Linked DNA regions of Homo sapiens. The protein of the gene in region 4 purifies or fractionates together with the protein of the main gene of each other region. This does not show direct contact. Each region holds a gene or a part of one and is shown on either strand. Other genes may lie near its edges. The genes, in order: KLHL20, TNIP2, CTBS and RELB.

What was found.
Region 1: the proteins of RELB (region 4) and KLHL20 purify together in Homo sapiens (affinity purification with mass spectrometry; 2 studies listed by BioGRID and IntAct, with this or other methods). This does not show direct contact.
Region 2: the proteins of RELB (region 4) and TNIP2 purify together in Homo sapiens (affinity purification with mass spectrometry; 2 studies listed by BioGRID and IntAct, with this or other methods). This does not show direct contact.
Region 3: the proteins of RELB (region 4) and CTBS purify together in Homo sapiens (affinity purification with mass spectrometry; 2 studies listed by BioGRID and IntAct, with this or other methods). This does not show direct contact.

The regions. Positions count from the first base shown.
Region 1 is NC_000001.11:173,731,958-173,738,989, reverse strand, and holds part of KLHL20 (kelch-like protein 20), read right to left. Parts: intron 5,278-7,032; coding exon 4,704-5,277; intron 1-4,703. UniProt on the Homo sapiens protein: Substrate-specific adapter of a BCR (BTB-CUL3-RBX1) E3 ubiquitin-protein ligase complex involved in interferon response and anterograde Golgi to endosome transport.
Region 2 is NC_000004.12:2,741,148-2,746,368, forward strand, and holds the end of TNIP2 (TNFAIP3-interacting protein 2), read right to left. Parts: intron 4,389-5,221; coding exon 4,299-4,388; intron 3,799-4,298; coding exon 3,550-3,798; intron 3,360-3,549; coding exon 3,240-3,359; intron 1,374-3,239; coding exon 1,110-1,373; 3' UTR 501-1,109; downstream 1-500. UniProt on the Homo sapiens protein: Inhibits NF-kappa-B activation by blocking the interaction of RIPK1 with its downstream effector NEMO/IKBKG.
Region 3 is NC_000001.11:84,550,441-84,557,472, forward strand, and holds part of CTBS (di-N-acetylchitobiase precursor), read right to left. Parts: intron 6,056-7,032; exon of another isoform or gene 5,540-6,055; coding exon of another isoform or gene 5,470-5,539; intron 4,760-5,469; coding exon 4,559-4,759; 3' UTR 2,685-4,558; coding exon of another isoform or gene 2,595-2,684; 3' UTR 91-2,594; coding exon of another isoform or gene 1-90. Other genes in the region: SPATA1 (spermatogenesis-associated protein 1), read left to right, coding at 1-90, 2,595-2,684. UniProt on the Homo sapiens protein: Involved in the degradation of asparagine-linked glycoproteins. Hydrolyze of N-acetyl-beta-D-glucosamine (1-4)N-acetylglucosamine chitobiose core from the reducing end of the bond, it requires prior cleavage by glycosylasparaginase.
Region 4 is NC_000019.10:45,011,463-45,018,494, forward strand, and holds part of RELB (transcription factor RelB), read left to right. Parts: intron 1-473; coding exon 474-814; intron 815-7,032.

The DNA.
Region 1 (7,032 bases), on a different chromosome or scaffold from region 4:
TAATACCAAAACCAGGAAAGAACATAACAAAGAAACAAAACTACAGACCAGTATCCCTGATGAACATAGATGCAAAAATCCTCCACAAAATAATAGCTAACTGAATCCAACAGCATATCAAAAAGATAATCCACCATGATCAAGTGGGTTTCATACCAGGGATGAAGGGATAGTTTAACATATGCAAGTCAATAATTGTGATATACCACATAAACAGAATTAAAAATAAAAATCATATGATCATTTCATTAGATACATAAAAAGCATTTGACAAAATCTAGCATCAATTTATGATTGAAATGCTCAGGAAAATCGGCATAGAAGGGACATACCTTAAGGTAATAAAAACCATCTATGACAAACCTGCAGCCAATATTATACTGAACAGGAAAAGTTGAAAGCATTCCCCCTGAGAACTGGAACAAGACAAAGATGCCCACTTTCACCACTTCTATTCAACATAGTACTTTAAGTCCTAGGCAAAGCAATCACACAAGAGAAAGAAATAAAGGGCATCCAGGACCAGGTGCAGTGGCTCATGCCTGTACTCCCAACACTTTGGGACACCGAGGCAGGTGGATTGCCTGAGCTCAGGAGTTTGAGACCAGCCTGGGCAACATGGCAAAACCGTGTCTCTACAGAAAAATACAAAAATTAGCCGGGCATGATGGTGCGCATCTGTAGTCCCAGCTACGTGGGGGGCTGAGGCGGGAGGATCGCTTGTGCCCTGGAGGTCAAAGCTGGGGGACAAAGCAAGACCTCATCTCTTATAACAAACAAACAAATGAAATAAAGAGCATCCAAATTGTTAAAGAGAAAGTCAAACTGTCGCTGTTTGCCGACAATATGATTGTATACCTAGAAAACCCTAAAGACTCATCCAAAAAGCTCCAAGAACTGGTAAATGAATTCAGTAAAGTTTCAGGGTACAAAATTAATGTACACAAACCAGTAGTACTGCTATACACGAAGAGCAACCAAGCTGAGAATCAAATCAAGAACCCAACCCCTTTTATAATAGCTGCAAAAAAAAAAAAAAAGATAAAATACTTAGGAATATATCTCACTACAGAAGTGAAAGGTCTCTACCAAAACACTGCTGAAAGAAATCATAGATGACACAAACAAATGGAAACACATCTCATGCTCATGAATGGGTAGAATCAATATTGTGAAAATGTCTATACAGCCAAGAGAATCTATAAATTCAATGCAATTCCCATAAAAATACCACCATCATTCTTCACAGAACTAGAAAAAACAATCCTAAAATTCATATGGAACCAAAAATGAGCCCACATACCCAAAGGAAGGCTAAGCAAATCTGGAGGCATCACATTACCTAATTTCAAACTATTTTACAAGGCTATAGTCACCAAAACAGCATGATACTGGCATAAAAATAGGTACATAGACCAATGGAAAGAATAGAGAACCCAGAAATAAAGCCAAATAGTTAAAGCCAACTGATCTTTGACAAAGCAAACAAAAACATAATGTGGGGAAAGGACACCCTATTCAGCAAACAGTGCTGGGATAATTGGCAAGCCACATGTAGAAGAATGAAACTGAATCTTCATCTCTCACCTTATACAAAAACCAACTCAAGATGGATCAAAGACTTAAATCTAAGACATGAAACCATAAAAATTCTAGAAGATAACATTGGAGAAACCCTTCTAGACATTGGCTCAGGCAAAGAGTTCATGATCAAGAACCAAAAGCAAATGCAACAAAAACAAAGATAAATAGATGGAACTTAAACTAAAAAGCTTCTGCACAGCAAAAGAAATAATCAGCAGAGTAAATAGACAACCCACGGAGTGGGAGAGAATGTTTGCAAACTACAGATCCAACCACAGACTAATATCCAGAATCTACAAGGAATTCAAACAAATCACCAAGGAAAAAAACAAATAATTCCATCAAAAAGTGGGCTAAAGACCAATAGACAATTCTCAAAAGAAGATATACAAATGGCCAACAAACATATGAAAAAATGCTCAACATCACTAATGATCAGCAAATCAAAACCACAATGTGATACCACTTTACTCCTGCAAGAATGGCCATAATTTAAAAAATAAAAACATAGGCCGGGTGCGGTGGCTCATGCCTGTAATCCCAGCACTTTGGGAGGCCAAGGCGGGCAGATCACCTGAGGTCAGGAGTTTGAGACCAGCCTGGCCAACATGGTGAAACCCCATCTCTACTAAAAATACAAAAATTAGCTTGGTGTGGTGGCAAATCCCTGTAATCCCAGCTACTCGGGAGGCTGAGGTGGGAGAATCGCTTGAACCCGGGAGGCGGAGGTTGCAGTGAGCCGAGATCATGCCACTGCACTCCAGCCTGGGCAACACAGTGAGACTCTGTTTCAAAATTAAAAAAAAAAAAAAGATGTTGGCATGGATGTGGTGAAAAGGGAACACTTTTACATTGCTGGTGGGAATGTGGACTAGTGCAACCACTATGGAAAACAGTATATGGAGATTTCTTAAAGAACCAAAAGTATATCTACCATTTGTTCCAGCAATCCCACTACTGGTTACTGCCCAGAGGAAAAGAAGTCATTATATGAAAAAGACACTTGCATGTGCATGTTTATAGCAGCACAATTCACAACTGCAAAAATACGGAACCAGCCCAAATGCCCATCAATCAACAAGTGGATAAAGAAAATGTGGTATGTATATATACCACAGAATACTACTCAGCCATAAAAAGGAACAATATATTGGCCAGGAACAGTGACTCACGCCTGTAATCCCAGCACTTTGGTAGGCTGAGGCAAGCAGATCACAGATCACTTGAGGTCAGGAATTTGAGACCAGCCTGGCCAACATGGTGAAACCCCATCTCTAATAAAAATACAAAAATTAGCTGGACATGGTGGCATGTACCTATAGTCCCAGCTACTTGGGAGGCTGAGGCAGGAGAATCACTTGAACCCAGGAGGCAGAAGTTGCAGTGAGCTGAGATTGAGCCCCGTTGCACTCCAGCGTGGGCAACAGAGCAAGTGAGACTCCATCTCAAAAAAAAAAAAAAAAAAAAAAGATAGAATGGCATTTGCAGCAATCTGGATGGAGTTGGTTGGAGACCATTATTCTAAGTGATGTAACTCAGGAATGGAAAACCAAAAATGATATGTTCTCACTTATAAGTGGGAGCTAAGCTATGAGGATGCAAAGTCGTAAGAATGACACAATGGACTTTGGGGATTCAGGGGGAAGTGTGGGAGGTGGGTGAGAGATAAAAGACTACACATTGGGTACGGTGTACACTGCTCGGGTGGTGGATGCACCAAAATCTCAGAAATCATCAATGAAGAACTTATTCATATAATCAAACACCACCTGTTCTCCAAAAACTATTAGGGGGAAAAAAACTATGGTCCTGAGCTGACCACTTTACTGCAAAATAAATAAAAATATGATTTTTTAAAAAGTTGTAAAACAGACCATGTTTTGTCTTTGCTTAAAACCCTTTAATGGTTTTCTAGCACTCTTAGGATCAATCTCAAATTCTTTTTTTTTTTTTTTGAGATAGGGTCTGGTCTGGCTCTCTCACCCAGGCTGGAGTGCAGTGGCACGATCTTGGCTCACTGCAACCTCTACCTCCTGGGCTCAAGCCATCCTCCCACCTCAGCCTCCTAAGTAGCTGGGACTAAGGGTGCACGCCACCATGCCCGACTAATTTTTGTATTTTTTGTAGAGACAGGGTTTCGCCATGTTGCCCAGGCTAGTGTTGAACTCCTGAGCTCATGCAATCTGCCCGCCTCAGCCTCCCAAAGTGCTGGGATCACAGGCATGTGCCACTGCACCAGGCCAATCTCAAATTCTTAACATAGTCTATCAACCTCAGTGTGATTTAGCCCTCTTCTTTCTGTGTAATCACTATGTAACATCCTCTACCCCCCTTGGTCTCTGGGTCTCACTGGGTTTTTTTCAGGTCTTCAAACTAGTGATGCTTTTTAATGTCTTGGGATTTTGCACAAGTTGTTCCAGCACCAAAGTTAAATTTCTCTGTAATACACTCTTAAATCATCCAGGACTGCTTCTTTGTAACACCCATTAACTGTAGTTAATTATTTGTATAATTAAGCATTTAATGATTATCTTCCCTGCTAGATTATAAACTCCATGAATACAGAGACTCTAGATTTCTTGTTCACTATTGTACCCTATGCTCCCAAGCACAGTGGCTGAAACATAGTAGCTTTACAAATATTTGTTAAATAAATAAGGGAAAGATAGGTTTAATGAAAATTATTTTGATAACATCTAAACTCATCTTTTCAGATTATTAGTTTACCAAACAACCTATAATCTATAATTTATTCTGAATAATCCACATAATCAGGAAGGAAATATCTTATATAAATCATGATACCAGGTATCCTATCAGGCATAGATCCTCTTGTGAATTACTCTATTTTGGCTTATAAATAAACCTTTTTAAAAATTTTTTTTTAAATACTTTTATGAATACAGTTAGGGAGAATAAATCCCTAAATCTTAACTTGCTGGTAGAACACAAAATTGCCCTCTAAAATAAAAGCCAGGTTTAGGATTTATAATAACTTATTTATTTGCTATTATGAGTTAGAATCAGCAGGAAATACCCAGGCAAGTGTTATTTAGCAGAATGTGAACCCATATTGCTCTCCAACAAATGGGTGCATTGGAACACCAAGTGCAACTCACCTCTTGAAAGTTATGTTGGGTGAACTTGTCTGCTATCCTTAGCAACTCACGACATGAATGTGTGTCAGCAAAAGCCCGAATGCCCAGGCAGTTAGAAGGATCTAATTGTCTCTTTAAGAATTCACAGCAGGCTTCCTGTATTTCTGCCAGCTGGAGGAGGCAAGCAGCTGGCAGAAGAGTCTGAACATTGCCCTCTTCTACTGTTATCTGGGAGGTATACGCAAAGTCAATCAGTAATTCCATAGCCCTCTCGTCAATGTCTCGGATCACTACTTCTGTCTGACGGCTCTCTGCCAATTCTCCTGTAAACATAGCTCGGAAGTAGGGACTACAGGCTGACAAAATGACTCGATGGGCATATATCTTCTTGGCGCCCACAACTAGCACCACATCACATAGCTCCCGGTGCTTTCTCAGAAGGTTAATCACTTCCAAGGTTTGTCGAGGGTGCTTGTCTGAGATATAGGGCATGCGGGCAGGTTGGGGAACCCCTTCTGGCAGTTTGTTGGGGTCTCCAAGGGTGCAGCGGCTTGTTACATCCATTCCAGTCTCTCCTGGTCGAATGTTGGTACACCTATAGGAATGATGGGGGAGAGAGAGAAGATGGCAGTATTATTATAAGCTCTTTTCTCCCCTTAAATGTTTGTAATTCAAGCGATAAGGAAATGTAATTAGCTTGGTGATTTTTTTTTTAAATTTTTTGTAGAGATGATGTCTCACTGTGTTGCCCAGATTGGTCTCAAACTCTTGGGCTCAAGTGATCCTGTTGCCTCCACCTCCCAAAGTGCTGGGATTGTAGGCATAAGCCAACATGCCTGGTCTACATAAACCATTTAAATTGAGCTACTATAGCAATAAAACTTTTAGATCAGGTGGTTATGCTTATCCATTTTAAAAATTAAGCCCAAGTTAACACGCTTCAATTAATAGTTAAATTTCAAATTAAAGACAATATAAAAAGTTTGGACTGACGGCCTGGTGTGGTGGCTCATGTCTGTAATCCCTGGGAGACTGAGGTAAGCTTATCACTTGAGGCCAGGAGTTCGAAACCAGCCTGGTGAATGTGGCAAAACCCTGTCTCTACTAAAATTACAGAAAAATTAGCCGTGTGTGGTGGCACATGCCTGTAATCCCAGCTGCTTGGGTGGCTGAAGCATGAGAATCACTTGAACCCTGGAGGCAGAGGCTGCAGTAAGCCGAGATTGCATCACTGCACTCCAGTCTGGGTGACAGAGACTCTGTCTCAAAAAAAAAAAAAAAAAAAAGTCTGGATTGAAGTTTATCTTTATATAGAAATCTTTTCTTCAAAGTTTATTAAAATTAAAATAGTAAAGAAAATGGCAAGCTAAATGATGATTTAGCAGGACTCCAAAGAGCCTCCAGGTCAAGATTTTGTTAGATTAATTTGGGTCTAATTTCATATCTAGAGATATTAAATATGATAAGCTTCATTTAAAAGTACTACATATGTTGAATTGCTCCTGTCAAATTGGTCTGAATCACTGAGGTTTCGGTATGATTATAAAATAAGTGAATAAGTTCATAAACAGACATTCTTCAATTTATAAATAAGTAGTATTTAAAAGTTGAATCTAAAAGTTTATTTGGAGGTTTGCATTTTTCTATGGTAAGAGTGCTGTAAATGGGGACTAGGTTTAGTTGTAAAATTCAGTGCCTCATAAGAAGCATTAAAAAATGAAATAGAAAGTAACAGCATACATTTCATTTAGTTAAGCATGTTCAATTGTGTGTATGTACACACACAAATTTGTATAGATACGCATCACTGCTTCCCCTCGTAAACTGCAGGTTATATCAAAAAAGCTTAAATGCCACTGGCCTGAGTTTTGAAATCCCAAGACAAAAGGAACAATAGGTACAAGAAGGGAGAAGGAAAAGAATCTCTCTCTTTTTCAGATTATTCTACCATTTGTTGTTGCTGGGTTTTTTTACTTATTGATTTTTTTTAATTTTTGAGATGAGGGTCTCACTAAGTTGCCCACGCTGGTCTTGAACTCCTAGGCTCAAGCAGTCCTCCTGAGTAGCTGGGATTAAAGGCACATGCCATCACACTGGTTTTTTTTTTTTTTGAGACAGAGTCTGGCTCTGTCACGGAGGCTGGGCTGCAGTGGCGCAATCTCGGCTCACTGCAACTTCCGCCTCCTGGGTTCAAGTGATTCTCCTGCCTCAGCCTCCCAAGTAGCTGGGACTACAGGCATGTGCCACCATGTCTGGCTAATTTTTCGTATTTTTAGTAGAGACGGGGTTTCACCGAGTTAGCCAGGATGGTCTTGATCTCCTGACCTCGTGATCCGCCTGCCTCAGCCTC
Region 2 (5,221 bases), on a different chromosome or scaffold from region 4:
GATCTGGGTGTGTCTGTGAGGGTGTTGCCAAGGAGATTAACATTTGAGTCAGTGGGCTGGGGAAGGCAGATCCACCCTCAATCGGGGTGGGCACCATCTAATCAGCTGCCAGCGTGGCCAGAATAAAGCAGGCAGAAAAACGTGAAAAGAGAGACTGGCCTGGCCTCCCAGCCTACATCTTGCTCCGTGCTGGATGCTTCCTGCCCTTGAACATAGGACTCCCAAGTTCTTCAGTTTCGGAACTCGGGACTGGCTCTCCTTGTTCCTCAGCCTGCAGACGGCCTATTGTGGGAACTTGTGATCGTGTGAGTTAATACTTGACACACTCCCCTTTATATATCTATCTGTTCCATTAGTTCTGTCCCTCTAGAGAACCCTAATACAGCCAGGCTCCCACTGACCCCCTTGTCTTGGTGCCCTGGCAGAAGGCAACAGCAGGAGTGTTTTCCCATGCCAGCTGCTGTAAATACTGTTCAGTCCCTGCACCCCAGCTTCCAACACAAATTCTCAGAGCAGTCACAGCAGCAAGAACGTTTATTATAAAAATAGGTGAATAAAGTAAGTGTGCTTTAACTTCCGGCTGGATGACAAATGCTACTGAAATGCAGTTTCTCAGTGCAGACATGTGGCTCGCAATGGCGGGGGTGGCCACCCTAGTGTGACGTGCAGCCGCAATACTCCATTTGACTGGTTCGAGGCAGAGAGGCGACGCTTTATTCCATAGAACAGGATGGGGCTCCCACCCTGGGGACCATACAAGTGACTCCCTCAGGCAGCCACCCCTTTCTAGGCAGGCTGGGGGAGGGGCTGGCACACCAGCACCAGATAGCTCTGGCTTAAGCCTGATGGAGACACAGACTGGGACCTCCCTCTGCCAGATGTTCCTGACCCCATCTCCACCTCCAGCCTCCAGCCTCACTGGCAGTTCCCTGTGACCCAGCCTGTTCCATAGCCAAAGGGACCAAAGTGAACGATCAGAGTGCCCCGCAACTATTCTAGGGGCCTTGGCTCTCAGTAGAGCTCAACCCATGGCATCTGAGAGCACCCACCCTGTCCCTGAGGGCAGCTGCACCGGGCCAGGAGGCCGCAAGGGCACGGGTGAGTCTCGGTCACTGGCAGCACTCAGCCACATGCCTGAGGAGCTCTTCCCCTTGCTCGTCACTGAAGCACTGCAGGCAGTGAGGGCACTGAAGGTCCCCCTGGCCTCTCTGGGCCGCGCCAGGATGCCCGCCCTCTGCAGGGGGTTCTGGCTGCTGGGACCCAGTCCCAGGCCTCCAGCCACCAGGCACCATAAGCTCTAATGCGTCGGCGGCCAAATACTTGGCAGTTTTGCTCCCAGCGTGAATCCGGCCGGCGTCTGGCTCTCGAGAATCCTGGAGAAAAGGCAAGGGTGTATATACGTGGGCTGTGCTGACGGTCACAAAGCCAGGTCTCAGGTTCCAGCAACCAGAGGCACTTCACCTATCCCTGAGCGGAACTTCAGCCCCTCACTTTGCTTCCTGCTGCGCCCCAGAGCCCAGACAAGGGGGCGCTCAGTGAATGACTGAGGATCACACACACGCTCCGTCATGTGCTCATGAAGAAGTAGGCCCTGGCGTGGTCCACCCCCCAGCCCCTTGGTGGAAGTCCTGTTCAGTTGGACCTATCGGCCCCAGGAGACCTGACTGAGAAGGTGGCCCTGATGACGTGGCCCACAGGCCACCACAGAGTGGAGGTGGCAGAGCCTCTGGTGGGGAGCTGGGCAAACTGAGTACCAACCCTACTCTGCACCTCCTCTGTGGGGCCTGGGGGTGCTGAGCACTCTGGGGCTCAGGGGGTCCTTCAGTAGCAGCAAGAGGTGTCCCTGGCTTGGCCCCACCAACCACCTGGCATGATCTGGCACATGTTCTCCAAACATCCGTCCTGAAGCACTGCAGCCTGTGGCCCTCACTGCTTGCCTGGGAACTTCATTCCAGCAGGCCTTGGTGCTTCCACTTCCTGTCTGAATGTGGACTTTCCCCAGTGGGACTACAGCTTATCACCCATGCCTTCAGCACCACTGTCCCTGGCTGTGCCATCTAGGGACTGAGCAACCCTCGAGGGGCCACAGGCTACTGTTGAAAGGGAACCAGAGGCCACTTAGTACAAGGTCTGCAGGCCCCACCAGGAACTTTACCCCCGGGGGTAAGAATCTGGGCCTGCAAGTCTGGAACCAGTTCATCTGGTCCAAAATCTTCAAGAGGCGGCCTGAGACCATCCTCACGATTGTACCAATAGTGCTCCTTCAATCCAAATCACATGCTTCCTTGAATTCATGAAGGCCAGAAAAACCTGTCCAGCCCTCTGCTGCAGACTTAGTCCCAGGGTTAGTCCCATAGTCCACCATGACTCTCCCGTGCCCTTCATGCGGAGGAGAAGCAGAAACCACTGAGGCCCAGTGGCTGCTCGGAACAGGGCAGTGGGGGGTGGCCTCACAGCCCCAGGGTCCCTGTTCACACCCTGAAACACGGCTGACGTCCTAGCTCCAGCCCGGGACGCATCGATTCTCAAGAGGCATCACTACTGTTCAGTCTGTGCCAGGAGAGGAAGCTCTTTGAGTGGGGCCCAGGCTATTCCCAGGGCCAAAAGTGTGTTAGGTACTTGATGAGGAGCTACATAAACTTCTCCTGGATTTTTGCAGAGCACAAGTCAGTGAGGAGAAGGAAGAGGCCATGGGTCACACACTGAGGAACTTCATCGGTTCCCATTCATGCCAGGCCTCCCTCAAGGCACCCCATGGTAGGAAAAGCACTGAGCCCAGGGGTGGGGTGAGGGGCCCCTGCCCTGCAAGGCCCAGCTCCACGTGCCAGGCTGAGCTGGGGATGTTACTGGACACCCAGGGCCATCACATCTACATGACAAGGTAAGCGGGGTTCCCGTCTCACAGACAGGTCAGGACACGTAGGGAGCTCACACTTTGAGGCCCGAGATATGCTCTCTGACTGCATGACAGTGACGGACGGGCCCTGAGGACAGCCACCTCTGCTAAGACAGGCCGCCATGCCAGCCTCCTCCATAACTAAACAGTATAACAGGGAGGCTTTCCATGACCACGCCCAGGTACCAGGCCAGGTGGCTCTCCCCACAGCAGGGAGGGGCTCGCCACAACCCTCATCACCAGCAAATCAGGGCCTTGGCAGACACAGAAAGGCTCTAATCTCATGAGAAGAGAAACAAAAACACTAAACCTAAGCAGGAAGAAAAACGCCCTCATACTCTACCTGTCTCCAGGACACCTGGTGCAGCAAAGAGGCGACCTTTTCCTCCAGTTCTTGAATCCTACTTTGAGCCCGTTCCCGATCGGCCCTTTCTGACATGAAGTCATCCTTGTAAGCGAGAATCTGAAGAGAGGCGAGACACACATTTCTGCTCAAGGAAGGAGGAAGCGCCCCACCAGGCTTCTCCCACCCCCACAGTGACCACTGCCCACTCAGTGCCACCAAGCCTTCAGCCCAGCCTGTCCCATGATTTCGGCCACCACCGGCCAGCAGACATCTGGTCAGTGCCGTCCGGAGCCCGAGGGACAGACACCTGCTGTTCCAGCATCTGCACCCGCTCCAACGCAGCATCCCGGGCCGTCCTGGAGGCCGCCAGCTCCTGCTTCACTTCGGCACAGTCATTTATTTTCTCTTCCAACTGTCTGTTGAGCCGGGAGATCTCCTTCCTCATCAGCTCGGGCTCGTGGGGGATCTGCAGCCCCCTGAGCTGCGCATGGAGCCCCCTCACGTATTCGTCCCTGCTGGCGTTGTAGCGCTGCCACTTGGCATTGAGGTCTTCAACCTGAAGAGGTGGAGCCGGAAAGCTCACGGTGAAGGCAGCTGACAAAGCTGCTCAAGCCAGCACCCAGTGTGAATTATGTATTAGCAGTGATTCGCTGAGTGAGAGTTTCCTCTTAAATGGAAGCTGCCCCTCCCTGTTCTGTAGAGAGCAGACACTAGGCCCGCTAGAGAATCCTGAGGCAGCACGATGACACCCGTACGCAAGCAGCATGAACGGAGGTGGACTCGGTGCAGCTTTGCTGTCTTAGAAAATGGACCTCCTGCTGCTAACTCTTGCATCTCCTTTACTGACTTGTGGATTAATTTTAGGGGGATGGAGATGGACAGGACATGTCCCGTACGTCGTTTTAAGCAAAAAAGTCCAGTCTCTAGGGACTGTGTGTATCAAGTCCTAGTGGCCAGAGGGCGGGGGGCGACTCTGGGCATCAGCCAAGGAAAGAACCCTCACTTACAGTTTGTAAGCCATGTGTTCTTCTCAAACGAAATGTGAAAGACACTCACGTGAGTCACCTTCTGTTTTAACAGTCGATTTTCTTCCTGCAACTTCTCAATAACACTCTGGACAGAGGTGTGCCCATCTGTGTGTTCCGACTGCATGAGGAAGGGACAGAGAGAAGACACTCTGTCACATACAGCAAGAGGGGAGAAAGCTAGACCCAGAGGCTGAGGCCACAGATTATCACTGCGTCCCCCAGTGCAGCGGGTAGTGATCATTCATTTGGTAGAGAAGCAAAGCAGGGACAAGGGACCACCTTCTCCCTGCCCAGGCCCACCCCACCTGGCCCAGGCCAGAGCCCGGATGGGAGGTCTTCAGGCCACACCACCTTTCACACTGTCCTTATCCCGTCCCACCTACCAGTTTGAGCTGTTTGTCTTTTAAATATTTGGAATGTAAATATTCTAAAGCCATAATGTCTGCAGGGATTGGCACACCAGACATGATAAAGTCTTCTCATTGCCAGAGATTTGCCATTATCACAGACAGCAGGGAAGGCAGGAAGCTGAATCCCATTGTAAACCAGAGGATCTCCAGTGAGGGGGCCCCCAGCTGCCCAGGGTGGGCCTGGCCATGCACCCTGCTTACCTCCTTTGGAGCCCATGACACTGTCCTGTCTGCAGACAATCGGGTTCAACCAGGTGATTCTGGACACAGGAATCTAACCTCTGCCCCACGCAGGGTCAGGAGTCACCGAAGCCACAACCCAAACCAACCCCCACTAACAACTACAGAGCTGAATGAAAAGTCTCCTGAAACTCGTGTGTACCCTACAATTCTGACTGTATCTCAGTGACATAATTTTTGAGAATTCCCCTCAAATGACAAAGGAAGTGCACGTCCTAACACAGCCTACACCGGGAAGCCCCGGGTGACTCAGCTGAGTTCAGGGCTGAGAAGTGACACTTATTTAGAGACTGTGATGAGG
Region 3 (7,032 bases), on a different chromosome or scaffold from region 4:
ATAATCCAGATCACTGAGGTACAGCATGCAATTGACCAGCTTAAGAGAAAACTAGATACTGACAAAATGAAACTCATAGTAGAAGTTAAGGTAATTTACATTTTTCCTAATCAGATTATTATAACATTTATCTTGAAATAAAATATTTTGGTGTTTTAACTTTGGGTGTCAATAATATAAGGGTAGCCAGGATTGACTGTATTAAAATTGTTACCTTAACAGTAAAGAGCATAGGTGAAAAAAAAAATGCAGGAAGAAAAACTAAACCTGTGAAAAGATACATGATATAATAAAGCCAAAGTAAAATTTAGTAAAATTTTACTAGGAAGAATTAAAGGAAAAGGAACCTGTGAGTCAATATATTCTCAAAAAAAATTTTAAGTAGTTTTCCTGTATTAGAATTATTAAGTCTGATAAACCACTGAGCTCTCCTCTGAACTGACATTTAATTTTTTATGGGTAATCGTTTCATTTTTTCTGGTTATTTTCATATGTATTCTATTATTTAAATATGAATAATGTGTCTTCTACTAGATGTTAAGTTTCCTTCCTGGCAGAGACTATGCCTTAGTTAACTTTGTTTCTCCCATGGGACCTTTTGTATAGCAGATGCTTAGTAGAGGCTTCTGGGCATGCTCTATTTGGTGAGAATTGTGTACAACTAATTACATCATAGAAATTATCTGTGAAGTACATATGTATTAAAAAGCTTTTTTGTTGAACAGAAAACAGAAGATTATACATTTTCATACAAGTACCCACAGCAAGGCAGGAAAATGAGAACGATAATTATATGAATGCTCTCATTTCTTTATCAGAAACAGCTTTATGACACAGAATAATGACTGCATTCTAGAATTAGCTCTTTTTAAAAAAATTTTAAAAAGAAAAAAGAAAATCAGTACTGTCCTCGGTTTCAGATAAAAATAAAAATAAATAAAATTTAAAAATAAAAAAATAGAATTAGCACTGTCCAACAGAACTTATGTGATGATAGAAATGTTCTATGCCTGCACTGTCAGATTGGTACCCACTAGCCACCTATTGATATTGAGCACTTGAAATGTAGTTTGTGTGACTGAGGAACTGAATTTTAAATTTTATTTAATTTTAGTTAATTTAAGTTTAGTAGTTACATATGGCAACTGGCTTCTACTATACTGGACAGTGCAGTTCTAGATTCTTTTTACAAGCAGCATTCTCGAGGCTAAATAAGCCCTGGTTTGGCACTGAGAAGCTTAAAACTTAAAATAGAAAAGGAAAAGAGCAGAGGATAATTTTTAACAAAATATCAGTTAAATATGCACTCAAAAAATAATTTGTTCAATGAAGGAAAACTGTCTATTCAATATATGGAGATAAAGCCAATATGTAAACTTGTACACTTAATAATTGGGTAGGTAGGAAGGAGTAATAAAAATGCCCCCAGAGGCTTGGATTATGACTCCCCTCATGCTGTTTTCTTCTGGAAAGCATGCACATTACTTGTAATCTTTGTATATTTTAACATTACAAATGTCACTCATGGTTTGAACTCAAATTAGAATTGTTCATACAAAAACAGTAAGGACAAGTGGAATAAGAGGAAAAAAAGAGAACAAAGTTTTCAGCTTATAGGCTGGGGGGAAAAAATCCTGTATTTAACCATAGTGCCTGATTGACACATAACAGACATTATTTAAGAAGTTTTATTGATTTCTGAATGATCTCCCCAAAACAGCACTACCTATAAGATTCAGAACTAAGGGACAAAAAAAACCCAGCCTGAGTCTCTTGCAACCATATTTATTCAAGATAGTATAGCATAAGTAGTGCTTCTCAAAGTTTAATATATCATCTGAGGATCCTGTTTAAAAATGCAGGATCTGACTCAGTAGGTCTGGGTGCAGCCTGAGATTCTTCCTACCTAACAAGCTCCCAACTGATGCTAATGCTGCTGTCCACAGACAACACTTGGAATAGTAAGGGCTCTGGTACCAGGTGGTTTGAATTTGAATCCTGGCTGTACCCACTTCACTTACTAGTTTTTTATCTTGAGCAAGTTACTTAGCCTCTAAAGGTCTCCATTTCAACTGTAAAATGGGGATAAATACTAGTATCTGATTCTGTAAAATTTTTGAAAAAAAAATAAGAGACTAATACACTTAGAAGAGTGCTTGCCACAGAGTAAACACTATATTTCTGAAATATCTATTCCGTTCCTAAGGGCTAGGAATTAAGGGTTTTTTTTGTATTTTGTTTTCTTGTTGTTTTCACTATTTTCTTTACACATTGAGAACAACAGGTTTTGAAGTTTAAGCAAAACATAAAATTCTTTCTCACTCTAGTTTTTAGAACAGTTCAATTGTATTGTCCCTATCTACTCATAAACAAGGTTACCTTATAGCATATCTCACCAGTAGATAAGCATGCTTATTAAACAGCATTCATAATCTACACATTTACTGTAGTAATCCAGTGGGAGTTGAAAGCACTGAAGCCAAATGAGAGAAGACAGTTAAAGCGGTTACAAAAACCCTGTTTACATGACAACTATGATGTACTTTTAGAAGGGTATGATGAAGTTCATTTTTGAAAAGTAATTCTTTTTATAGATGAGAAAACAAGCAGTTTCAGATTTACGAACATTGAAAACTGAACTGGCACAGAAAAAAAAAATAATACATCTCTACAATCTCAATTAGGTATGTTAATTTAAAACTTTTATTTGTAAAAAAATTTAAATATGTATTTGAACAGATTTGTTTAACCATTATTCTCCTTGGCAATGTTTTATAAAAAGCACAAGGTTTCTCTTTCTCCACTTTCCATGTGGGTATTACAAAATGTTTCAGGAAATATTAGATGTAATATAAAGCAAAATGATGAATGGTTATTTTTAACATTCCAAGTCCTTTACATATTATTTTACAGTGCTAATTTTATAATTTTCATTTTAATAATTTAATAATAAAATTCAATAATAATTTATTTAACAATTTAAGAGCTAATATAACTAAAATCTATTTGCAAAGAATAAATGTATATTAATGAATACTAATATATTTGCATGAAAATACAGACTTCATTTAACTTAATTTGTTCATTATATCTTAATTAAAAGAAATCTGGAAATATAAAAGAATGGGGGTATTGAAGTTGCATTCTGAGCTATGATAGAGATAAGCATCTAAGAATTTAAATTTTTTAATTCATTTATTTTAGAAATATGAAGACAACAGTGATCCAACATATACTATGAAAATGGTTTTTACTCTGTCACAAACAATTGTGTAAATAGGAAATGTAATATTCTCATAACAGATGGTTCAATCATCATGTATTCCAATTTACAGGGGCAAAATGTGCAGGGAAGCCAGGATTTATGTAAATCTAGAGTTCAAAGATACAGATTTTTAATCTGTAATTAGGAACTAATAAGGGCAGCACAATGTTGTTCTTAATTCCCTGGAGAAAGAAAACAGACTTTATTACATTTAGAAAACTTATTTGTATAAAATTGATCTTTTAGAAAGAGAACTAGTTGAGAAGCTAATCAGTGTCTTTAGATCATTAAAAGCACAATGCAGCTCATGCCTGTAATCCCAGCTCTTTAGGAAGCCAAGGCAGGAGGAGTGCTTGAGCCCAGGAGTTGGAGACCCATCTGGACAACATAGCGAGACCCTGTCTCTACAAAAAATAAAAATAAAAAAGATACATTGCAGATGTAGAAAGAAAAATTTAACCATGTAAGCAAGCTAGCCAAGAAATAAATTATATATGTCCATAAATGAAGAAATGAATAATTAGAAGTGTGACAGTGAACAGAATCAAGTTCAACTGCAAGTTATTCCTATTATTAAAAATTTTACAAATGAGCCTCATAAAAATAATGTAGTTGGAAAATATTAGGTAGTTCTAACTTACCAATTCAAAATATTACTGTTACATTCTTCTATTTTGTGAATACATTTAATCTTCTGGATTCTTTTTAATTCTCACTCACTGTCCAAAGATTTAGTTCAAGTACCTCAGAGAACATAAATACTATATGGAGTCAGGAAGCAGAAAAATTATTTTCATCAGTTTGATGAACCTAAAGGGGAGACACTACATTGTAGGTTTTAAATTTAAGATTTATTGGAGGGTTGGGGGAAAAGTATAGCACAAACTGCTTTTCAAAGACTAGGTTTTTAAAAACTCTAAGCAAACAATTTCCACTTCAGATTATACATATTTTAAAAATCAGCATTGATTCGTGAGCATATATTTTACTATAATGAAGGGAAATATGGCATAATAAAATTCTGAAAGCAATTTTTCCCAATTAAATTATAGTGTTGAAACATCTAATAGAGGAATATTTAATAGGTAAGTTGACTTGCTTCTTGCCTTTATGTTCCTGGATACTGAGGACATTCGTGTGTATTTTTCAAATTCAAACAATCAAAACATTTATTTATTCTTTTTTTTTAGTATACGGATAACAAAAGTATATAGCAACATAATAAAAATGCAAGAAACTAGATCTGTTGATACAGATCATCTTTCTAACTCTTAATGGTTTGACAAAAGATGTTCATCTCTGTAACAGCTTTGGCTTTAAGACTTCCCACATTTCTTCAGTTTGCTGTTTGGCTACAGCATCTCCAGAGTAGTCAAGACAGTTTGCATTCCACATGCCAATGCCCCGTAAGCGATAGTTTTGTATATATGTTGCCTTTAAAGAAATACTCTGAGGGTTATCATACCATACTTGATGAAAGTGGCCAGCAGGATCCTATATAAATAAATTAAAATGGAGATTTTAAAGTATTTAGTACAATTCAGCACCACAGGAAAGGGAAAAATAAAAGAAGTATACAGTACAGTAAGAGGGAAAAAAGTTTCCTAAATCCAATTATTCAAAAAGGATACAATGAAATAAAAATTTTAGGGCATAACACTTTCCTATTCTATAATTCCATGGTTCTATATTTGATACAAATGGTCCCTGACTTACAATGGTTCAACTTACAATTTTTAGACTTTACGATGGATTTATCAGGGTATTTCGTTCATTTTCAACTTATCATATGTTTATGGGTTTATTAGGACACAATACAATCATAAATCAAGGAACATCTGTACTTTCTAGGTATTATTGCTTATGGCACTTTTAACAATGGCAAAGATTACAGAAACGAGCCTCCTAATAGATTCTACTTGAGCTCCTTTTCATGTCCTAAGATTCTTTCCTTGCCCTTAGCCAGTGATTATTAGCCAAGGCGTACATCTGAATCACTTGCGGAGCTTTTAAAATACAGATTCCTGGGTCCCACACCACATGAAACCTATTGAATCAGAATTCTCCAGGGTTAATGCTAGGGCATATATTTGTTTTGTGTTTTAATGTTTCATTAGATAATGCTGGTATGCAACCAAAGTTAAGGGGAATCAATGCTCTGGTCCTCTAAAACCAGCTTATGTGCTTTTTTGTATTCTCTGTAGTTGCTAGAAGTGTGCCTGGCTAGGAGGTCTACAGAAGATTTTGTTTATGATGAATCAGCCAAGTCAAAAGGTAATGGCAATGGAGGAGAAAAGTACATCCTTTTCTAGGTCTTACAGATACATTCTCAGAGTCTGTTAGGTCTGCACTTTATTGGTGACTTAACATACACCTGATTATGAGCCATAAATTAGATTCTGGTCTTATGTTCACCTTCCACCCTAAAAAGTCCTTCTGCCCAGAATCAACTACCTCTATCTAGTACTAACACAGTCTCTCTCAGGCAGCACATGAGCTATTGGATAAGAGACAAAGGAAAAGGGAAAGGAGCAGATCTAGGACAAAGTGCAAAGGAAGGTGAAAAAGATAGGAGATAAAAAATAGAAAGACCTGTGACTAAAAATAATTTACTTATTTTTATATACATCTAGGAAACTCCTTAAAGGCATTTCTGAATTAATGCCAGTAATATTTACAGCAGCACTCCTGGAATTAGAATAGTCTCTTAAGATGACCACTTTGGGGCCGGGCACGGTGTCTCAGGCCTGTAATACCAGCACTTTGGGAGGCCGAGGCAGGCAGATCATGAGGTCGAGAGATCGAGACCATCCTAGCCAACATGGTGAAACCCCATCTTTACTAAAATACAAAAAAATTAGCTGGGCTTGGTGGTGCATGCCTGTAGTCCCAGCTACTCTCGAGGCTGAGGCAGGAGAATTGCTTGAACCCAGGAGACGGAGGTTGCAGTAAGCTGAGATCACGCCACTGCACTCCAGCCTGGAGACAGAGCAAGACTCCGTCTCAAAAAAAAAAAAAAAAAAGACCACTTTGAAGGAAAATAATTCACCTGGTAAATGAATACACTGCGGCATATTTAAATATGGTAGACTAATTGTAATCAAGCATATCTCAGTCTGTATCTTATATTCCATTCTTTAACATTTTTAGAACTAGACAAAGCCATGCATGCCCTAGTAATAGTTGTGATTCATTATTAAAAGGCAACTTGTAGAACTTGTACTTAAATATGACAGATTATTGAAGATTCAGGGGCAAACCCAAAGACATATACCTTTGAATTTTGCCATCATTCTAGCTAGTACTTTGAGCCTTTTTGATATTATTAAGAAATTCAAATGTCTCAAAATTGTAAAGGAACAAAGGGCAAAAACTAAGCACATGTAAGACTAATTTATGCATGGTTAAGGCATATTTGCTTTCCAGAATATTGAGTCCAAGATGAGCTGCTATTGCTGAAACAGCCCAATAGAGTGATTCTCTTCAAATAAGACAGAAACTTGATTCATGTTGCTACAGAATTTTGCAATTAATAAAAAAGAGGGGGCCAGGCGCGATGGCTTACGCCTGTAATCCCAGCATTTTGGGAGGCCAAGATGGGTGAATCACCTGAGGTCAGGAGTTCAAGACCAGCCTGGCCAACATGGTGAAACCCTGCCTCTACTACAAATACAAAAATTAGCTGGGTGTGGTGATGCATGCCTGTAATCCCAGCTACTCAGGACGCTGAGGCAGGAGAATTGCTTGAACCTGGGAGGCGGAGGGCG
Region 4 (7,032 bases):
ATTATTTATTGAGAGACGGAGTCTCACTCTGTCGCCCAGGCTGGCGTGCAGTGTCACGATCTTGACTTACTGCAGTGTCCGCCTCCTGGGTTCAAGCTGTTCTCCTGCCTCAGCCTCCTGAGTAGCTGGGATTACAGACGTGGGAGACCATTCGGGCTAATTTTTGTAGAGACGGGGTTTCACTATGTTGGCCAGGCTGGTCTCGAACTCCTGACCTCAATTGATTCACCCACCTTGGCCTCCCAAGGTGTTGGGATTACAGGCGTGAGCCACCGCACCTGGCCTCCCTGACTCTGTGTGTGTGTGTGTGTGTGTGTGTGTGTGTGTGTGTGTGTGAGAGAGAGAGAGAGAGAGAGAGAGAGAGAGAGAGAGATAAATGGGATGGAAAACGTCTCGGGGGTAATCAAGCCTTTTTTTTTTTTTTTAATTTTTTAAAGAATGGGCGTCACCACCCGTTTTTTCTTCTCCCGCAGAGATCATCGACGAGTACATCAAGGAGAACGGCTTCGGCCTGGACGGGGGACAGCCGGGCCCGGGCGAGGGGCTGCCACGCCTGGTGTCTCGCGGGGCTGCGTCCCTGAGCACGGTCACCCTGGGCCCTGTGGCGCCCCCAGCCACGCCGCCGCCTTGGGGCTGCCCCCTGGGCCGACTAGTGTCCCCAGCGCCGGGCCCGGGCCCGCAGCCGCACCTGGTCATCACGGAGCAGCCCAAGCAGCGCGGCATGCGCTTCCGCTACGAGTGCGAGGGCCGCTCGGCCGGCAGCATCCTTGGGGAGAGCAGCACCGAGGCCAGCAAGACGCTGCCCGCCATCGAGGTGGGCCCGGCGAGCGGCCCCGGGCGGGTGGGACTGGGGCTTCCCCTGCACCCCGGAGCCATCCACATGCATTTATACGTTTATTTGATGGTGGCTGTTGTTGTTATTGTTGGACCAGATATTAATTATACTATCACCTGGCCTGGAATCCAAAAGGTTCAGAAAAAAGGAGGGGTCGGACATTTGGCTGGGCACGGTGACTCGCGCCTGTAATCCCAGTACTTTGGGAGTCTGAGGCGGGCGGATCCCTTGATGTCAGGAGTTCGAGACCAGCCTGGCCAACATGGTGAAACCCCATCTGTACTAAAAGTACACAAATTAGCCGAGTGTGGTGGCACAATCCCAGCTATTTAGGAGGCCGAGGTGGGAGGATTAGCTGAGCCCAGGGAGGTGCAGGCTGCTGTGAGCTGAGATTGCACCATTGCATAGCAGTCTGGGTAACAGAGTGAGACCTTGTCTCAAAAAAAAAGAAAAAAAAAAAAGAAGGCAGATCGTGGTGCGGTGGCTCAGGCTTGTAATTCTAGCACTTTGGGAGGTCGAGGCGAGCGGATCACTCGAGCTCAGGAGTTCTAGATGAGCCTGGGCAAGACGGCAAAACCCCATCTCTACAAAAAATACAAAAATTAGCCAGGTGTGGTGGCACATGGCTGTAGTCCTAGCTACATGGTAGGGCTGAGGTGGGAGGATCGCTTGAGCCTAGGAGGTCAAGGCTACAGTGAGCCAAGATCGCACCACTGCACTCCAGCCTGAGCAACAGAGCAATACCCTGCCTCCATTAAAAAACAAACAAATATATATAACACTGGAAGTAAAAAAAGCAAAGGTGATTACTTTTGGCAGGGTATTAATGTATTAATAAGGTACAGGTAAGTTTTATTTTTTTGAGACGGAGTCTTGGTCTGTTGCCCAGGCTGGAGTGCAGTGGTGTGATCTCGCCTCACTGCAACCTCCACCTCCCGGGTTCAAGCGATTCTCCTGCCTCAGCCTCCCGAGTAGCTGGGATTACAGGTCCACCACCACGCCTGGCTAATTTTTGTATTTCTTAGTAGAGAAGGGGTTTTGCCATGTTGGCCAGGCTGGTCTCAAACCCCTGACCTCAAGTGATCCGCATGCCTTGGCCTTCCAGAGTGCTGGGATTGCAGGTGTGAGCCACTGTGCCTGGCCTCTTTGGTGTCTGTTAATCTGGATCTGTTCTTCAATCTGTCTTTGTGTTTCGTGAGTTGAACATTTGTGCAGAACAGGACGGATGTTTTGTAGAATGTCCCACATTCTGAAGCTGGTCGTGGTGGCTCATGCCTGTAATCCTAGCACTTTGGGAGGCCGAGGCAGGCGGATCACCTGAGGTCGGGAGTTCGAGACCACCCTGACCAACATGGAGAAACCCCATGTCTACTGAAAATACAAAATTAGTGCGGCGTGGTGGTGCATGCCTGTAATCCCAGCTACTCGGGAGGCTGAGGCAGAAGAATCACTTGAATCCGGGAGGCAGAGGCTGCGGTGAGCCAAGATCGTGCCATTGCTCTCCGGCCTGAGCGACAAGAGCAAAACTCCTTCTAAAAAAAAGAAAAAGAAAAAGAAAAAAAGAATATCCCACATTCTGGGTTTGTTGGCTGTTTCCAGATTAGGTCAGATTATGCATTTTTGGCAGAAACACTCCAGCAGTGATGCTGTGGCCTTCTCAGTGTCTCACATCAAGGGACGTGGGATGTCGTTATTCCCAATATTGGTGATGCTGAGTTGGATCCTCCAGCTAATGTGGTGACTATCAGGTCTCTCCATGATAAAGATACAACTTTCCCTTTGTAATGAATTGGTAAGTTATCTATGGGATGATATACTGAGATGTATCATCCCATGTTTAACTGTATTCCCCAACTTCTAATTTCTAAGGCTTTTTTTTTTTTTTTTTTGGAGACAGGGTCTCTCTCTGTCACAGAGGCTGGAGTAAAGTGGCACAAGCACGGCTCACTGCAGCCTCCACCTCCCAGGCTCAAGAGACCCTCCCACCTCAGCCTCCTGAGTTGCTGGGACTACAGGTGCATGCCACCGTGCCTGGCTAATTTTTGTATTTTTTTGAAGAGTTGGCATCTCACCATGTTGTCCAGGCTGGTCTTGAACTTCTGGCCTCAAGCAATCCTCCCACTTTGGCCTCCCAAAGTGTTGGAATTACATGTGTGAGCCACCGCACCGGCCTAATTTCTAAGTCTTCCCAGGCAGTTATTCTGGCTCAGAGTTTTTTTTTGTTTTTTGGTTTTTTTTTTGATGGAATCTTGCTCTGTCACCCAGGCTGGAGTGCAATGGTGCAATCTCAGCTCACAGCAACCTCCACCTCCTGGGTTCAAGCGATTCTCCTGCCTCAGCCTCCCAAGTAGCTGGGATTACAGGCACGCGCCATGATGTCCGGCTAATATTTTGTACTTTTAGTAGAGATGGGGTTTCACCATGTTGGCCAGGCTGGTCTTGAACTTCTGACCCCAAGTGATCTGTCTGCCTCAGCCTCCCAAAGTGCTGGGATTACAGGTGTGAGCCACCGTGCTCGGACCCCAGAGTTGGTTTTGATTTCCAAGATTTAGAATGGTAAATGCCTAACCATAGGGAATGACCTGTCTCCAAATCTGGATTCAGGATTTTTTTTTTTTTTTTTGAGACGGAGTCTTGCTCTGTTGCCCAGGCTGGAGTGCAGTGGTGTGATCTCAGCTCACTGCAACTTCCGCCTCCTGGGTTCAAGCGATTCTCCTGTCTTAGCCTCCCAAGTAGCTGGGATTACAGGTGTGCACCACCATGCCCAGCTAATTTTTGTATTTTTAGTAGAGACAGGGTTTCACCACATTGGCCAGGCTGATGTCAAACTCCTGCCCTCAGGTAATCCACCTGCCTCGGCCTCCCAAAGTGCTGGGATTACAGGCATGAGCCAGCATGCCTGGCTTGGATTCAGGATGTTTATCCCCATCTTCAGAGTAGGAAACTGAGGTTAAAAGAGGGGCAGTTACCTGCACAGGGCACACAGCAAGTTTACTATTGTAATTACCGCCATTTACTGAGTGCTTCCATGTACCAGGTACTTTGCATACCTATTTTACACATAAAGACAGTAAGACCCGAGAGGTTTATCTTGTAGATGGCCAGTGGTAGAGCCTGGATTTGGTGCCAGGTCGGACTTATTCTAAAGCCTAATGGGCCAGGCATGGTGGCTCATGCCTGTGATCCCAGCACCTTGGGAGACTAAGGCAGGAGGATCACTTGAGGCCAGGAGTTCAAGACCAGCCCAGGTGACATGGCAAGATGCCCGTCTCTATAAAAATAAAAAAATTAGCCAGGCGTGGTGGCATGCGCCTGGGGTCCCAGCACCATGGGAGGCTGAATGGGGAGGATTGCTTGAGCCTGGGAAGTGGAGGCTGCAGTGAGCCATGGTCACACCACTGCACTCCAGTCTGGGTGACAGAGAAAGATGCTATCTCAAAAAAAAAAAAGAAAAAAGAAACAACTAAAGTCTAATGTTTTTTCCACAGTCCCAACTGACATCTCAAGGATGAAAAGCTTTCAGCCCTGGAGTCTGCATGAGTCCGAGACTGTTGACTCTAAGCTTTTCAGAATCTCCTACTATTACAGCGGGGAGCTGGTTAAATGAATGGTTTTAACCCTATCTGACCCAGTGAGATTTGTAGACAATATTACCTACCTCTATTCACAGTCACTCCCAAAGTCCATATTTTATTTTATTTTATTATTATTTTTTTTTTGAGATGCAGTCTCGCTCTGTCACCCAGGCTGGAGTGCAGTGGCATGCAACCTCCGCCTCCTGAGTTCAAGTGATTCTCCTGCCTCAGCCTCCCGGGTAGCTGAGATTACAGGCACCTGCCAGCAGGCCCGGCTAATTTTTGTGTTTTTAGTAGAGACGGGGTTTCACCATGTTGGCCAGGCTGGTCTCGAACTCCTGACCTCAAGTGATCTGCCTGCCTCAGCCTCCCACAGTGCTGGGATTACAGGCGTGAGCCACCGTGCCTGGCCAAAACTCCATATTTTACACCAAACTGTAGTATAAAAGAGAAAGAAAAGGAAATTAATACAGCATATATAATCACATTTATTTCAATATGTAAACGCCCCACAGGATATATGAGGAAGGTGGCAGTTGTTTGTGACTATATATAGGCTCCTTGTTAATGCCGTGGCCACAAATGCAGCCTGACCCAGCTGCGCAGACTTAGTGACTTATATGTCACACGTGCAGGGTTGCGGTTGGTGAGGGGATTTTCCAAAGTGGCGAACAACTCTTGGTCTAAACAATTAGTGTGCTGGTTGCAATCTTTGAAAATTCAGTGGGTATTACAGTTATGGGAAACTCCAGCCTGGGTGACAGAGTTAGACCTCGTCTCAAAAAAGAAAAAGGAAAAACAATTATGGGAAAGAATATTATTGGTGTCAAACAGAGCAAGGGCCAGGTGTGATGCATGCCTGTAAGCCCAGATGTTTGGGAGACTAAAGTGGAAGTATTGCTTGAGTCTGGGAGGCGGAGGTTGCAGTGAGCTGAGATCGTGCCATTGCACTCCAGCCTGTGCGAGATCCTGTCTTAAAAACAAACAAACAAACAAACAAACAAATCCACTCAGCAACAATAGAGCAAGTTTCTGGGATCTGGTCATTTTAAACAGGTTTCTTATTGACTCGAATCTTTGGCAGGATGTTCAGAAGGCTTGCTGGCTGTGGGATGGCTGTGCGGGACTGTCCCTGGTATTATAAACTGTCCAGCATAACTGGTCCTGTCTACTTGCGGTAGGGTCCACATCAGTGTCAACCAGCCACCCCCCAAATCCCATTTTTCCCCTAGGGGGCAGCACTCCCCCACTGAGACCAATGGTTAATGGTATTTTATAGGCTTGGGCTTTAGAAGTTCAGAGCAGGCTTCAGAAGGTATTTAATGCCAGCAGGGCTGAGCCAGTGACTCAAAGCTGCCAAGTGGGACTGGCCCTGCCTAACGGGGCTGGTTTTTATTTGCTGCTGCCTGTGGCTGCTGAGCAAAAATTCTGGCTTCACTTGCTATATCTTCCTTTTTTAAAAAAGAAAAATCTGGGGAGGCCGAGGTGGGCGGACCACCTGAGGTTAGGAGTTCGAGGCCCTGGAGGCTGGGATCGCACCACTGCACTCCAGCCTGGGCAACAGAGAGAATCTGTCTAAAAAAAAAAAAAACAATTCTGGAAATCCGAAATAATGTGATGTCTTATAATTTTAATTGTGGGCTCCAAGTTTTTCCTAATCTTTTACTTGGAAAAAAAAGTTTTAGTTTTTTCCTGTCTAGTTTTTCTTTTTAAGTTTTATTGAGGTATAATTGATGTAAGAAAAATTGCACATACTTAATGTATACATTTTGATGAATTTGTTATTATTCCTTTTTTTTTTTTTTTGAGACAGAGTTTTGCTCTTGTTGCCCAGGCTGGAGTGCAATGGTGCGATCTCTGCCTCTCAGGTTCAAGCAGTCCTCTTGCCTCAGCCTCCTGAGTTGGTAGGATTACAGGCCTGTACCATCATGCCTGGCTAATTTTGTATTTTTAGTAGAGAGGGGGTTTTGCCATGTTGCCCAGGCTGGTCTCGAACTCCTGGCCTCAGGTGATCCACCCGCCTCAGCCTCCCAAAGTGCTGGGATTGCAGGCACGAACCACCGTGCCCAGCCCTTTTGATTAGTTTGGATGATAAAAGAATTTAAACCTAGAGACCAGGCGCGGTGGCTCACGCCTGTAATCCCAGCATTTTGGGAGGCCGAGGCAGGTGGATCACCTGAGGTCAGGAGTTCGAGACCAGCCTGGCCAACATGGAGAAACCCCATCTATACTAAAAATACAAAAATTCTTGGCCGAGCGTGGTGGCTCAGGCCTGTAATCCCAGCACTTTGGGAGACTAAGGCAGGCAGATCACAAGGTCAGGAGGTGGAGACCATCCTGGCTAACATGGTGAAACCCCGTCTCTACTAAAAATACAAAAAATTAGCCAGGTGTGGTGGCGGGCGCCTATAGTCCCAGCTACTCGAGAGGCTGAGGCAGGAGAATGGCGTGAACCCAGGAGGTGGAGCGTGCAGTGAGCTGAGATCGTGCCACTGCACCCCAGCCTGGCCAACAGAGCGAGACTCCATCTCAAAAAAGTAAAATAAAATAAAAATACAAAAATTAGCCAGGCATGGTGGCAGGCACCTGTAATCTTAGCTACTTAGAAGGTAGAGACGAGAA